2 linked regions of the Homo sapiens genome follow. The protein of the gene in region 1 interacts with the protein of each later gene in a biochemical or structural test. Each region holds a gene or a part of one and is shown in the gene's direction. Other genes may lie near its edges.

Region 1 (5,749 bases):
GGCTTCCCCCTTTCTGCGTTGCTCTTTTCCTTGCACCCCCAAGTGGAGCTGGTTGGTACCCTTCCCTCACAGAAGACCAGAGTGCTTGCAATGCAATGTCTGCAGCGAGATCACATCACAGAGCTTTTTATCTGATATCAATGCCCTTAAGAATTTTTGCAGCCAATATTTAACAAGTCAGCCTGAAAATACAGCTGGACCCTATAACTGTTTATTTATTCAGACGAAGTGAAGCTTTTTGGCTAGGTGCCCCTGTTGAGGGCTTGGGGTATACAACTGCAGAATACTGATGATTGTTCCAAGTTTGGACATGGGACTCAAACTGAGCTCTACAGTATAGTCCCTGTCCACTAGCAGGGATCCTCAGCCAAACCATGGAAGGTTGTAGGTCTGGCTTCCGCTAGACCCAGCTGGGGGACTGTCTCCCCTGGAGAACTGGGGGGGTGGGGAGAGGGTATTGTAGAAAGCTGAGCCCTCAGATTCAACTTGCTTGTATTTTAATCTAGCCTCAGAAGGTAATAAAATTAATGTTCTATACCCATGTCCCCTTTTTCCTTATTCCTTGCCCCTACTTTGTCAATGTGTTCAATGTGTTCAATGTGTTAAAACACAATGTGGGGATTTGGTGGGTAGGAATGAAGACTGGTATAAGTATATACTGGGAAAGCCTTGAATTCCTGGCAAATGTAATATTTTTCTCTCCTTTTTTTTTTTTTTTTTTTTTGAGACAGAGTCTCACTCTGTCACCCAGGCTGGAGTGCAGTGGTGCTGTCTCAGCTCACTGCAACCTCTGCCTCCCAAGTTTAAGTGCCTCAGCCTCTCTAGTAGCTGGGATTACAGGCATGCGCCACCACACCCAGCTAATTTTTGTATGTTAGTAGAGACAGGGTTTCGCCACGTTGGCCAGGTTGGTTCTGAACTCCTGGCCTCAAGTGGTCCTCCCACTTTGGCTTCCCAAAGTGCTGGGATTACAGGTGTAAGCCACTGCGCCCAGCCCTAATATTTTTCTCTTTTACAAATACCATTCTCACTAATATGATATTTTCCTAAATGAAGACAAGTTGTCCAACATGAAAGATGATAAAATTCTACCCTCCTTTTTGCACAGCTAACTGGTGGAAATTATTAGCAAGTGATCTGGCTTCTGTTAATACAATTTAATTGAATGTGTTTTAAAATACAAGCAACAACTTTGTTCAAACTAAACCCATTTTTAGAGCCTGTATTGTAGAATATAACTTTTCTCTTGATTTGTTATGAAAGGAGTATATTCTTCAGTGAAAATGAAGTCTAATTTCTGTATCCGTGAAATAAGTATTTGAATTAACATAGCATTTGAAAATTAAAATTGCCCCATGCCTTGCTGCCAAGGAAGCAGAACAGGAGAATGGGGTGCCGGATTTAGAGCCAGTGTGCCTGATTTTCAGTTTCTACCATCCCAGACTATGACCTTCCCAATTTTAATGAATATTCTTGCACCCAGTTTCCTCACCTCCAAAAAGCATGCTGATTAAGTGAAATGGCCTGTTCTGAAACCCACCACTCTCTGTGAGTACACCATGTGTGCCCATGGCCAGATGGCCAGCATGCATGATGAGAATGGAGTCAGGTAATACCAATGTCTCAGACTAAGAAGCTCGAAGATATAATCTTGTGCTCCATCACTCCTAAATACCATTTTCAAAGTATTCCCTCTTGGAAACATAAACGTCCCTAACCCAGGTCTGAAGAAAACTTTCATAACTAAAGAATGCCATGCACCAAAGCTCAAAGCAAGTAGATTTCAAGAGCGAAGCATCACCCACTAATAGATATGAGGCTGAATTTAGGTTTCCTTCTTAGCGGTGAGTTTAACTGAATCATTAATGCACTTGGAAAGAGGCAGGAAAGACAGTGCCCTGTATATTAGAACAAGATGCAGGGAGCGAGCCTCTCAAGAATCAGAGGCCATCATTGGAGAGGCCTGGATTCTGGCGATTTAACGAATTCCTGATGACATAGCAAGGTCGTAGGAGATGGAGCCATTCACCACAAAGATCAGATGCCCCAACACAGGCCATTAGTTACCTTGAAAGATTTTTGTTTCCCATTGTCCTCTCTCCTCTTTTAAATTCTCTGTTCTAACTTCTGGCAAGGTTTAGCAAATGGCACATGGCAGGAAGCACTTTTATTTGAAACAGTCTTCCTAGGATAACATCCTTTCTTCCATTTTTATATATAAACGTCTAAAACTATCTTGGCATTGGCCAAACTTTATCTTCCCTTTATGTATATAGCTGTATCAGTCTTGGCAGCAATAAAAAGTGAAGAAACTTTGAAATGGTTTCTTCAGGATGCAAGCATGTTGAGGTCTTGTGCACATGTGTGATTGCTGGTTTCCATAAGACTCCAGACGTGAGCCAGTTGCCAAATGAAAAGATCAAATCTGTGACTCAGAGAGTCCAATGGATTATCTTAATTAACTACATCATAATCAGCATGGTTCATGCATAAAAATATATTCACTTAAATAAGTTCCTGCTATTAACAGGCTCTGTTCTAGTTGTTTGAGATGTATCAGACAACTAGTGTCTGTATGATAAGGGCTTATTTTTTTGATGAGTAGATACTTATGGACCGTACTACCCTTCTAATCAGGAAAGTTAAAAAGACATGGTAGGAAGAACATGGGCCTCAAAATGCAACCAGCATTTGAATGCTCACTATACAGTGTTAGCTGGCTAACTTTTACAGTGATTAATCTGTCATATTCTTCCCATATCAGCCTCAGGGCTCAATGGAGGTGTTAGCTGTGGAGAGGCTTTCCAGAGAGTTGTGCTCTCTGAAATTCAAGAATCTTCTTCAAGCTTGACTCCTGATAAGTATTTTTCTTCCTCTTACTTCAGGTGGTGTAACTGTCACACTCCCTCAGGCAGGACCATGGAACACAGCATCTTTGGTCTTCAATCAGTCCCCTTCAATGGCTCCGGGAGCCATGATGGGTGGTCAACCTTCAGGTTTTAGTCAGCCCGTCATTTTTGGTACAAGTCCAGCTGTTTCAGGTTGGAACCAGCCTTCACCCTTTGCAGCCTCAACTCCCCCTCCAGTGCCTGTTGTCTGGGGCCCTTCTGCATCTGTGGCACCCAATGCTTGGTCAACAACAAGCCCTTTGGGGAATCCTTTTCAGAGCAATATTTTTCCAGCTCCTGCTGTGTCCACTCAGCCCCCATCCATGCACTCCTCTCTCCTGGTCACTCCTCCTCAGCCACCTCCCAGAGCTGGCCCTCCCAAGGACATCTCCAGTGATGCCTTCACTGCCTTAGACCCACTTGGGGATAAAGAGATCAAGGATGTGAAAGAAATGTTTAAGGATTTCCAACTGCGGCAGCCACCTGCTGTGCCCGCGCGGAAGGGAGAGCAGACTTCTTCTGGGACTTTGAGTGCCTTTGCCAGTTATTTCAACAGCAAGGTTGGCATTCCTCAGGAGAATGCAGACCATGATGACTTTGATGCTAATCAACTATTGAACAAGATCAATGGTAAGCCACTCACCACTCTGCCTACTGTTCCAACAACTATCTCCACTGCCACATGGACCTAAATGAGTTCCCCAAATGAACCCTCTCCCACCCGCCAACAGCTTTGCTCTTGCTTCTGTTGGTAATCAAGGGTTACGGAGACAACTTAACCATTTACCTTTTGGTGATAACTATTTACCTTAGTCATTTCTGAGGACTGACCCAATGCTGCCCTCTAGTGATAAATCTTAAAAGGGCTGCCATGAGCTATTGAAATGTGATGACTGGTGACTCTTGGAGGGCTGTGTAATAAGGCGTCATCCATGTCCCATCAGCTTAAAATGAGGGGATTCTGAATCTCTTCCACTTCAGATAAATATGCATGGCTTTCTCTTCCGAGAAGGATAATAATTATTGGGGTACCTAGTATTTGGTGTTGATTTTTGTTCCACTGATGTAAATTTCAAAAGTATAGAACTAAACTTCAAAAATAAGCTGACTCGGGGACTGGCCTATATTTGGGGAAAGCTTGTCTACTGATTGCCTGGATTTTTTACCTTCTAGAACCACCAAAGCCAGCTCCCAGACAAGTTTCCCTGCCAGTTACCAAATCTACTGACAATGCATTTGAGAACCCTTTCTTTAAAGATTCTTTTGGTTCATCACAAGCCTCTGTAAGTATGAACTACTAGAAGCTCTTCTCCAAAGTACATGCCACATAGAGCTCCAGCCTCCTGAATTAACCTTGCTTTTATAATAGCTTTTATTTATTTATTTATTTTTTTAAGACAGAGTCTTGCTCTGTCGGCCAGGCTGGAGTGCAGTGGTGCAATCTCAGCTCACTGCAACCTCCACTTCCTGAGTTCAAAGGATTCTCCTGCCTCAGCCTCCTGAGTAGGTGGGACTATAGGCACGTGCCACCACACCTGGCTAATTTTTGTATTTTTTTGTAGAGATGGGGTCTCGCCATGTTGGCCAGACTGGTCTCAAACTCCTGACCTTAAGTGATCCATCTGCCTTGGCCTCCCTCAGTGCTGGGATTACAGTCATGAGCCACCGCACCTGGCTATAATAGCTTTTTGATGGTAAAACATGTTTAGCTAAGATTTGTCACCAAGAACCTTCACAGTATAAACATTCATTTAAACTGGAGAAAGATTATTTGCACAAGAACTATTATCTTCTGAATTTGAGAAATAATATCACATAGAAAACATCCTTCATATCTCACTTAACCTGACCCATGAAAGCATTTCGGGAGAAAATTGAGCCAAAATACTGTCTTGAAAACCTTTCAAAAATTTAAGTTCTTAATTTTCCAACAATATTTCTATAGCCTGTGAAAATAATACTTCCCATTTCGGGGAGGCAAATGAAATGCATCTGAACCTTGATTTTCACATAAATAATATACACTGCCATCTGCAAGCAGATGAAAACAAAACACTGTAAGCCCCATATAATGTTTGATTGGCTGATTGGCCTATGACCTAAGCGATTTTTAAAAGAATTTTGGAAGTCTTCATTGCGATTTTTTTCTTATGACTGTAACTGTATTTATTGACTAGATGATTTTATCTTCTTAGGTGGCTTCTTCTCAACCTGTATCTTCTGAGATGTATAGGGATCCATTTGGAAATCCTTTTGCCTAAATTCTGTAAGTAGAAGATCCTAATAAGCCTGTCTCAGGGGTTTTTGTGAGAAAGGGTGACATGGAATAAAGAGTGAAATTTTAATTTTAGAATTGGGAAGAGGGTAAATATCTATAATTTAGGAGTAATCGACAGGAAAATCTCTACTGAGATCATTCAATAATGACTAGGCTGGGCACTTAAGAATAGAATTCCTAAACACATCAAAAAATAGTAATATACCCTTGGGGATGTGGATTTTTATCTTATTCCATGTTCTTGGTTTTTCAGTTCTGTGTGGGAAGTAAAACTCAAAACAACACATCACAGGTTTCTAACCTTTTTACTTTCATATTGAAGTGGTTGCAAAACAACCTAGTAATAATTTGGTTTCCTATAAAGGGTTCAGATTCCATTGACTTTCTGAAGCCACCAAGTCAGCAAAACAGATTATGATCATTACTTCTCTACCATTTAACTGTGAGCAATCTCAAAGTTAGTCTGAAAGAGTCTGATGGTATTAAATCTGAAAGTTTTAACAACTATTAAAGATCTCCTTCATAGGCAGTAGGAGCTCAAAATGAGTCTGAAGGTTGATTCTTCTGTCTCATGAACTTTATC
Region 2 (4,665 bases), on another chromosome or scaffold:
TTGCCGATTTTGGCATGTGTAAGGAAAACATCTGGGATGGGGTGACAACCAAGACATTCTGTGGCACTCCAGACTACATCGCCCCCGAGGTGAGAGCTGCTGGGCACACGTTCACATTGCGGTGATGTACCCTCTGCTCCCCAGATGGCTGTGTGAGAGCTGGGAAGGGTTGAGGGTGGTACCTTGCAAGGGAACCTCGGACAGATTCTTATTCTATACTCTAAATCCTCCCTTTGAGATCACACATGCAAATTAATTTAGCACACATCCAGAAGCCCAAGCCCAAAATACATCAAGGTTTGGGAGAAAATTTAAATAAAACCCAAAAGAACCATCCAACACACATCAGTAAAATTCTTCGTCAAACTGTTGTGGCTCACGGCCATGTGATACCGCCTAATTATGACATTGAAATGTTTGTTGAGAGAAAAAGAGCATATCCCCTGGGCTGGCATATGACATGGGATCTGTGTCCTGTATATGTCCCTCAGCAGGAAAATGGACAATAGCCCGTGATTTATTTATAGCATGAAATACTACCAGGCACCAATTCAGAAGAGTGAGTTAGATATATATGTAGATGTGAAAAGATCTTCAAGACACATTGTTAGAGAAAAAAATCAAGGTACAGAATGACAAATACAAGGCCAGGTGTGGCAGCTCGCGCCTGTAATCCCAGCACTTTGGGAGGCAGAGGCAGGTGGATCACTTGAGCCCAGGAGTTCCAGACCAGCCTGGCCAACATGGCGAGACCTCGTCTCTACAAAAAATACAAAAATTAGCCGGGTGTGGTGGCACATGCCTGTAGTCCCAGCTACTTGGGAGGCTGAGGTAAGAGAATCACCTGAGCCCCAGGAGGTCCAGGCTGCAGTGAGCCGTGATTATGCCACTGCACTCCAGCCTGCCTGGGTGACACAGTAAGACCCTGTCTCAAAAAAAAAAAAAAAAAAAAGAAGAAGAATGACAAATAACACTATGATACTATTTATGGATGAAACAGAAATACACAGAACACTGTTCTGTTTTCAATGAGTAAAAGCATACAAAAATCTGGAAGATTTCAAACTGATTTTATAACACTGGTTACCTCTGAGGATAAGGGAATTGTAAAGAGAAATTTAGCTATTTCTGTATACTGCTGACATTTTTTACAAGGTAAATGTATTTGGGTATTACTTGAGTAATAAAGTAATTCTTTAAAAATAATAAGGCTTTACTCGGACCCAGTGAAGTTTTCCCTATGTGATATGCTTTGGTCTATTATCATTTTGTTAATTAATTAGATAGGACACAATCCATAACACAACTTCCTGATAGGCCAGGGGTTCCATAATCTCTGGTTCTCAACTCTAACTGCAGTTTAGAGTCGTGAGGGAGCTTTTACAATGTAGGATGCAGCTGGGGCATGGTGGCTCACTCCTGTAATCTCAGCACTTTGGGAGCCTGAGGCAAGAAGATCGCTTGAGGGTAGAAGTTTGAGACCAGACTGGACAACATAGTGAGACCCTAATCTCTACAAAAAAAATTAAAAATTCGCCAGGTGCACTAGGTCACCCCTGCTGTCCTGACTACTCAGGAGGCTAAGGTGGGAGGATCACTTGAGCCCAGCAGGTAGAGGCTGCAGTAAGCAGTGATCATGCCACTGCACCCCACCCTGGGCGACTGAGCGAGACTCTGTCTCAAAAAAAGAAAGAAAGAAAGAAAGAAAGTGTTTCCACACTTTTAAAGTACTTCAAGTCTTATTTGATCCTCATGACAAGCCAACAAGTTAATCCTTTTACAAAGGAAACTAGAGCCTGGGATGTGACAGCAGTTGCCGAAGGTGATGTGGTTAGCTCATGACAAAGCCTGACCTGCTGCTTATCCCTCCCATCTGTGGGCTGGAGGGGAGGCAACTTCACCAGCCACACAGTTGAGGGTTTCTTGTGCTTGCCTGAATCACGACCAGCGAGGAACTTCTGAGAACCACAGATCCTGGGCCTCCACCTGCAGAGATTCTAATGGGATGATGCTTGGGCATCCCACATTGTTTCTTGTGTGTGTGTGTGTGTGTGTGTGTGTGTTTGAGACAGGGTCTCACTCTGTCTACTCACTGCAAGCTCTGCCTCCTGGATTCATGCCATTCTCCTGCCTCAGCCTCCCGAGTAGCTGGGACTACAGGTGCCCATCACCACGCCCAGCTAATTTTTTTTGTATTTTTTTAGTAGAGACGGGGTTTCACCGTGTTAGCCAGGATGGTCGCGATCTCCTGACCTCGTGATCCGCCCGCCTCGGCCTCCCAAAGTGGAAAACACGTTCAATGAGAAGTGTTCTCCTGGAATGCTTTCCCTTCCTTGTCTTGAGGGTTACTTCTCAGAATGCATTTCATTCATTCATAATTGACCAGTAAAATTGTATACATTTATCATGTGCAACATGTTGTTCTGAAATATGCATACATTGTGGAATGGCTAAGTTGAGTTAATTAACATATTTATTGTCTCACATACTTATTTTTTTATGGTAAAAACACTTAAAAATCCCTCTTAGCAATTTTCAAGAATACAATAGATTGTTATTAACTATGGTTACTGTGTTACACGATAAGTCTCTTGAATTTATTCCTGCTACTTAACTGAAATTTTGTATCCTGTAATCAACATCTCTGCATTTCTGATTTTGGAATAGAAATCAAAGTGGGAGATAGAGATCAAGAAACAAACATTCACTTTATAGCCAAGTTTGCTCAAATACCCTTTTTGAGTTAAACAAGCAATAACTGAATTATAAAACATTCTAGGATTAGTTAACATTTTGAGGGCATAATATGTGAAAGCCACCGAGTATCTCATTCATCCTCACATAACTTCATGATATAGAGATTATAGAAGTTAAGTAACTTCTCCTGTGGTCAGACAGCCAACCGGTAGACAGCAGTCAGGATTCAAAGTCAGACTGCCTAACCCTCAGACCTCAGCCTTTAGCCTTTGCTGTATTACCTCTTAACCTCTGACATGGTTAGTTTTACATCCCTGCATACTGAAAGATGGACAATCACATAGCTCTTCTAGACTTTTCCATGTTCTTGCAGTTTGGGAATATGAATTAAAAACTTCACAACCATATATACCATATGATACACCAATTCTACATCTAGGAGTTTATCTTAAGGAAATACTTGGACAGATGTCCAAATGTCTAATTACAAGAATATATGTTACAGCATTGGAAGAAACCTAATCAACTGGAAATTTATAAGATAGATTTTGGTATATCCATTCAACGGAATGCTATGCACAGATAAAAATTGATTATGTTCATATACAAATATTAAATTAGCAAGGAAAACTTAAGTGAATAACTGGCTTTATTAAAGATCTATTGCCCATAATCCCAGTGCTTTGGGAGGCCAAGATGGGAGCTTTGCTTGAGTTTGAGATCAGTCTGGGCAATATAGAGAGACCCCATCCCTACAAAAAATTAAATAATTAGCATGGTGGTGAGCACCTGTAGTCCCAACTACACAGGAGGCTGAGGTGCGAGGATTGCTTGAGCCCAGGAGGCCAAGGCTGTGAGCTGTGAGCTATGATCTCACCACTGCACTCCAGCCTGGGTGACAAAAAGAGACACTATCTCAAAAAAAAAAGAAAAGAAAAAAAGAAAAAAAATCGTCCAAATACTAAAGTGTTTATGTAAAGCACACACATACACACAGAGTTTAATATGTATTCAGAGAAAAGAGTATGGAATGAAGTAGACCAAATATTAGTCATAATTTTTCTCTTAATAAAGGATTATGGGTGATTTTCATGTTATTATCTCAGCTGAGCTATCTTTTATAAAGAAATATTAAAATAGTGACAAATGTTGTTATCTCTTAAACGTTTTTATGTTTAATTATGTTTTAAAAACATGTAACGTAAAATTTACTATTTTAACCAGTTCTAAGTATACAATTTAGTAGTGTTAAGTATATTTACATTATTGTGTAAATGTTGTAACTTTTACAGAGGAGTAAAGACAGTTTTTCCTTTTAAAAATTCCATGCTCACTGTTTTGAAAATAATAATAACAATACACCTTACTTAGTGCTTCGAAAAGGCAATGTGACAGCCACAGGTGTTTGCCCAGCTGCAGGTGCCTCTGCAAAGCATGTCTGTCATTCCCTGAATAGCTAATATAAAGAAACAGTTCAGGTGGGCACTGGCCTTCTTGTAAAAGAAGAGTGAAATCTGTCTCCAGAAGAAACATGAACTGCAAACCTCCCTGATAGGGTGCCTTCTCTTTTCTAGATAATTGCTTATCAGCCCTATGGGAAGTCCGTGGATTGGTGGGCATTTGGAGTCCTGCTGTATGAAATGTTGGCTGGGCAGGTAATTGAATTTTAAGTGATCGATAAGAGAAGTCCTCCCTACCCCCATCCACATGGTTTCTTTAGGAGAATGCATGTTTGGTAACAGCTCATAAATTGGAACCTCTATGACTTTCCCGGCCTTGGGGTCATACAAGTCTGTGGTCATTTGAAAGCCTGGGTGTGTGGCTTCACTGTGGGCCCCAGGGAGGAGGGTCTGCCAGTTGAGGGGAGCTAGGGGGAGGGTTCAAGCAGGGATTCTTCTCCTCCCACCCTCCCCTGTCATACAGGCACCCTTTGAAGGGGAGGATGAAGATGAACTCTTCCAATCCATC

Evidence for each region. Proteins that work in one complex are often made in the same cells at the same time.
Region 2: of the proteins of DAB2 (region 1) and PRKCB, one has a biochemical effect on the other in vitro, tested with the Homo sapiens proteins (one study listed by BioGRID).

What each region holds. Positions count from the first base shown.
Region 1 is NC_000005.10:39,374,419-39,380,167, reverse strand, and holds part of DAB2 (disabled homolog 2), read left to right. Parts: intron 1-2,885; coding exon 2,886-3,518; intron 3,519-4,061; coding exon 4,062-4,171; intron 4,172-5,083; coding exon 5,084-5,149; 3' UTR 5,150-5,154; intron 5,155-5,749. UniProt on the Homo sapiens protein: Adapter protein that functions as a clathrin-associated sorting protein (CLASP) required for clathrin-mediated endocytosis of selected cargo proteins.
Region 2 is NC_000016.10:24,180,840-24,185,504, forward strand, and holds part of PRKCB (protein kinase C beta type), read left to right. Parts: coding exon 1-89; intron 90-4,271; coding exon 4,272-4,352; intron 4,353-4,620; coding exon 4,621-4,665. UniProt on the Homo sapiens protein: Calcium-activated, phospholipid- and diacylglycerol (DAG)-dependent serine/threonine-protein kinase involved in various cellular processes such as regulation of the B-cell receptor (BCR) signalosome, oxidative stress-induced apoptosis, androgen receptor-dependent transcription regulation, insulin signaling and endothelial cells proliferation.